Regions from separate parts of the Homo sapiens genome. Here region 1 is linked to region 2. The links come from fine-mapping of genetic effects on gene expression. Tissue or cell type: whole blood. Region 2 holds a variant in brackets; the other region holds the start of a gene. All regions are shown on one strand. Distances are from middle to middle.

Evidence for each region. PIP is the estimated chance that this variant, and not a neighbour inherited with it, causes the effect.
Region 1: it holds the start of MIS12, and the variant in region 2 is fine-mapped to the expression of MIS12 in whole blood (GTEx, PIP above 0.99).

Annotation. Positions count from the first base shown.
Region 1 is chr17:5,484,891-5,487,573 of GRCh38, forward strand. MIS12 (MIS12 kinetochore complex component) reads left to right here and starts at 1,676. Exons shown (of 3, transcript NM_001258217.2): 1 at 1,676-1,794. DERL2 (derlin 2) reads right to left here and starts at 1,288. Exons shown (of 7, transcript NM_016041.5): 1 at 1,179-1,288; 2 at 261-326. The coding sequence starts at 1,271. RefSeq lists enhancers at 946-1,125, 1,166-1,225, 1,846-1,945, 2,186-2,295 and silencers at 1,396-1,555, 1,505-1,672.
Region 2 is chr17:5,457,372-5,460,054 of GRCh38, forward strand. All of the region lies in intron 4 of DHX33 (DEAH-box helicase 33), which reads right to left. Among named protein-coding and RNA genes, the nearest start is that of DHX33, 10 kb to the right of the region's middle. The variant C/T (reference allele first, on the strand shown) is at 1,554.

The DNA.
Region 1 (2,683 bases), 28 kb after region 2:
AAACACAGATTTTAATTCCTACCCTTGCAAATTCTGATTTGGTACTTGTTGAGGAGCTTGAGAATCTCTTCAAAGTTCCCTAAGGGATTCTCAAGTCCAACCAGGCTGCAGAATCACTGCTTTATATCCTGACAAGGCAACTTATAATCAAAGGTCCCCACTGGGTTCTTTTTTAGGATAGTGTATAACAGGATTTGCTACTAAACAGTAAGAAAAAGAAGAAACTGAAGCATTAATCACTATTGTGATGAACCACTTACTTGAAAGTGTTTAAAGATTAATTCAGGATTGAAGTACAACTGAAAAGGTGTGATCAATTCCAACTGCTGAAATAGAAAAAGAGCTTCTTAAAGCAAATCAAGAAACAAAATTTCATCATTTACAACAAAGAATTAGTAGGTCTAGCAATTTCCAACTCTCGGTCACTTAGACGTGATTTCCTTTAAGCCTTTCTTCTTAGGCCAGAGGAAGAGGTTGGTAAAGAATTCTCTAGGATTGGTAGAATTCTTTGTATCCTCAATACCTAACACAAAAAAGTCTGTTTTATGTTGCAATAGTTGAGGCTGACATGAAGAAATGAGGCAGACAGGTGGTGATATTTTAGACACAGGACAAATAAAAACAGCTGCTATGAATCTACCCACCACATGGGCACCACCTGAAACAGCTGTATGAAACAACAAAACTCACTTGAAATAACGGAGACTGGAGACCCTGCCACCGTTAGGGCTGGGTACCTCCAGCTAGCCCCTTATTTAGATCCAGAGACCCTTTTTATTATAAGCCATTCCCCTCTCGACAGTTTCCAGCTTGCTTTCCCCATTCCTGTTTCTTCACTAAACGGACCTTCCTCTCACTAGTCACCATGGTACCACCTGGCCATTGGCAGAGCTCTCGGACACATTTCTTGGGTGGGAGGCTCCCGCAACCCTAACCCGCTATAGGTCCGGCGCTCATCTCTTAGAAACTGACCTGACCCCCCATGAAGCAGCACTCCCTTCTCGCGTCACTGGATAAGCATTCTTGGCGCCAACTCGAACCCCAGAGTAATCCCTGTACGCCTCCACCCATCCCCGGGACCAGCCCCTCTGGGCCTCCCCGAGGCCCAAACCCCAGTTTCCTGAAGACCCAGTCATATCCAGCCCAGATAATGAGAAGGTGGCACTGCAGCTGCTCACCACGGCGGCGGTGGTGAGGACGCAGGCAGTGGTGTAGGCGCGGCTGACCGGTGGGATCTGCAGGTACTCCAGCCGCAAGCTCTGGTACGCCATCTTCCCCACCGTCGCCTGCCCCACCCCCCACCCACCCCATTTCCCCTTCCGCCAGCAGGCCCCGGCGGCGGGGCGGGCCCAAAGGCCCCCCGCCCACTTTAGTTTTCCCGCGACTGCCCAATCAACGCCAAGCAACCGCAATCCGTAGAGACCTAAGGAACGCACATCCGCCAATCACGAGTTGCGTCGCCACCGCCCCCCCCCAGCGCCCCATCTCCCCACCCTCTCTTCTCCACCAGCCAACGTCCGGGAAAAACGAGTAAGTACAGGTTCCTTCTGCCAATCCCCGCCGGCCACAGCTAACTTTCCCGCCCGGCCCCTTTCTGTCATAATTGAGGTGTCCACAACCAGCCAATCAGGAACGCGAGAGTATCCCGCGTTTGCTTTCGCTCGCCGAGGCGCGTATCAGTCGGAATTTTGGGGAGCCAACCGCGCCGTCTGTCCCTGGCAAGCCAGCGGCGGTTTAAAGGAGGTGGCGGGAAGCCTGTGTGTGCTTCAAATCGTCACCCTCATGGTCGCTCCGGTAAGTGCTGCGGGGCAGCATTTTCTCTGAGGAGGAGCGGGGACGGGCGAGACTGGCATAAGCGTCTTCGCGAGGGAGCAAGGCGGCCTGTGGGTCGGCCTCACCCCGGCCTCCGACCTGAAGATCCCAGCATGCAGCGCGGGCGCGGGGCCCGACGGAAGCCGGGAGCCGGCCGGAAGCAGTTCCTGCGCTCTGGCTTCTGGGTCCTGTCCTGCGCGATCGCGGGGTCTTAGACAGCTCAACTCGCCGAGATGACCTGGGCACCTCTGCGTTGAATCGGCAAATACTGATCAAGCCGCATTTATTCTGCTCTCAGGAACTCTAAGTCTAGCAGAGAAGATGAGGCGGTAGAAGTTCATCAGTCAGTGCCCGAAGAGAGGTCCTAATGGGAATTCGAAGAAAGGAGTTAATCAAGGAAGTGTATTTTTTTGTTGTTGTTTGAGATGGCGCCCACCTGTAATCCCAGCTACTTGGGAGGCTGAGCTAAGAGGATCACTTGAACTTAGGAGGCAGAGGTTGTAGCGAGCCGAGATCATACCACTGTACTCCAGCCTGGGCGAAAGAGTGACACTTTGTCTCAAACAACAACAACAACAAGAAAATTAGCCAGGCATGGTGGCCTGCACCTGTTGTCCCGGCTACTTGGGAGACTGAGGTGGGAGGATTGCTTGGGCGCGGGAGGTTGAGGCTGCAGTGATCTGTGATCGTGCCACTGCATTCCAGCCTGGGCGACAGAGCGACAACATGTCTCAAAAGAAAAAAAGAAAAACAGAAAGAAATCCTACCTTACATATACAGCCAAACAGTTATAACCACTCCATATTTAACCATTACAAACGTAAATTTTTATTTTATTTTATTTTTTGAGACAGAGTCTCGCTCTGTTGCC
Region 2 (2,683 bases):
CAGCACTTTGGGAGGCTGAGGCAGGCAAATGGGTTGAGGTCAGCAGTTTGAGACCAGCCTGTCCAACACAGTGAAATCCCATCTCTATTAAAAATACAAAAGTTAGCTAGGTGTGATCCCAGATACTCAGGAGGCTGAGGCACAAGAATCACTTGGACCTGGGAGGTAGAGGTTGCAGTGAGCCGAGCTCGTGTCACTGCACTCCAGCCTGGGCGACACAGTGAGACTCCATCTCAAAAAAAAAAAAAAAAAGTGCCTAATGGCAAAATAAATAGAAAAAAATTTTAATAATTATATGTATATTTATGTATATATGTAAAAATACGTATTTTTTAATATGTATTTTTTTTCAGCCCAGTATTAACAGAACAAATGTGCAGAGGGATACACAGACAGGATAAAATCTAAAACAGTCAAAACCTCATGAGTGGGAGAATTCATCAAAGCCAGTGGTAACCTAATGCACCAGCAGCCATCATTCATGAAAAATTCTCGTTTGCTTTCTGCAGCTGAACAAGGCAGACTTCTTCCCCAAACACTATGAAAACGACAGTAAAGGCCACTGTCTTAGAAAGAAAAGGCAATGAGAGATGAGGAGTCTCAACTCATTTTGGAAGAGAGGGGAAAGGGGCTGGATGACTTGGCTAGAGGGAGGAAACTACAAATTATGTTGTGGGAGAGTGAAAACTCAGGGATTGGTTCAAAGTCTGAGTATAGAGTAGTTAAAGCCTTCAGTTCCCTCTCCTACCCAGGACGGCCAGGAGACTGGGAAGCCATGGGTCTCACCACGGGAAAATGGTGACAAAGTGAAGAGTCAAGATGACAGCTGCACAAAGGCCCAGGAGAGCCACCTGCCCCAACTGGAACAGCAGCATAAAGGACTCTGAAAAGACAGACTGTGCTTGAACACAGAACTATACACGACTGGCATATGAGATGTTGGAATATTTGGGAGAAAATGAGCCAGAGCTACCCAGAAAGCTTGCACAACTGTGTTGTTCAAGAAACAAGGTACAGGGATGATGGTGTGCTACTAGCAATGTGTGGTCATAATATTCTTAGTATTGATACTGGACTCAGAAAACATCATAATAGGCCAGACACAGGTGTGCAAGCATGTAGTCCTAGCTACTCCCAATGCTGAGGTGGGAGGACTGATTGAGCCCGGGAGTTCACGACCAGCCTGGGCAACACAGCAAGATCCTGCCTCAAAAACAAAAACCTAAACAAAAACATGATAGAACTGTCAAGAGGTTGGAGATAAAGGGGGTTGGGGAGGGGCATTCTAAACTTTTGTCACCATGGTAAGAAATTAGCATATGATGCCTGATACCCATAACTCAAAAAATAGTGGTCAAAGCAAGGTAGTTTAGAAACATGAAAGCAATATGTAGAGATTGAAAGTAGGTGCCCTAAACAGCAGAAATCTGGGATGTTGAAGTAAAAACAACTGCTATTCTTTTATTATAAACCTTTTACTATAAACTACTTGACTTTTTAAAACTTTAAATCCCATATGCATCACTTATTTTAAAATAAAAATTGACTGGGCA[C/T]GGTTTCTCACATCTGCAATCCCAGTGCTTTGGGAGGCTGAGTCGGGAAAATCACTTGAGGTCAGGAGTTTGAGACCAGTCCGGGCAACGTAGCAAGACCCTGTCTCTACAAAACATAAAAAAAAATTAGCCAGGTGTACTGGTGTGTGCCTGTAGTTCCAGCTACTCAGGAGGCAAAGGTAGGAGGACGGCTTGAGCCCAGGAGATCGAGGCTGTAGTAGCTGTGATTATGCCACTGCACTCCAGCCTGGGTGACAGAATGAGACCCCGTCTCTAAATAAGTAAATTAATTAAATAAAAAGTTATTTTAAAAGTTTGCCTCTGGATTTTCTCAGAAAGCTAATAGGAAGGTAAAAACATTAAATTTTATACAAATTAAACAAAAGTGACTTAATGATTCAAATTTTTGAAGTAAATGTTTAATAAAATGAGAAAATATTTTTAAATATTCTCCTAATATAGTTTAAAAAAAAAAGAAACTCTAAGTTGCAACCCATTATTGGGCTAATGTCAACTTTTTCTTTTTTTGAGATAGGATCTTGCTCTGTTTCCCGGGCTGGAGTGCGGTGATCATAGTTCACTGCAGCCTTAATCTTCCAGGCTTAAGTGATCCTCCTACCTCAGCATCCCAAGTAGCTGGGACTATAGGCATGCACCACCACACCTGGCTGATTGTTTGATTTTTAGTAGAGACAAGTCTTGCTATGTTGCCCGGGCTGGTCTCAAACTCCTGAGCTCAAGCAATCCTACCCACCTCTGCTTCCCAAAGTGCTAGGATTACAGGTGTGAGCTACTGTGCCCAGCCAACATTTTCTTTAAATGAGGCACAAAATATCAGAGTACCCTACATGTAGTAAAAGACACAGTACTTCTTCTTTAAAAAATAATTTTTATAATTTTTTTTATAGAGACAGGGTTTTGCTATGTTGTCAGACTGGTCTTGAACTCCTGGACTCAAGTGATCCTCCTGCCTTAGCCTCCCAAAGCGTTGGGATTACAGGTGTGAGCCACCATGCCTGGCCAGAAGCAGTGTTTCATAGACCTATTTCAGTTATATGTATAGCGTACGGGGTTGCAAAAGAAAAAGTACCTTTTTTTTTTTTTTTTTGAGACAGACCCTCGCCCTGTCA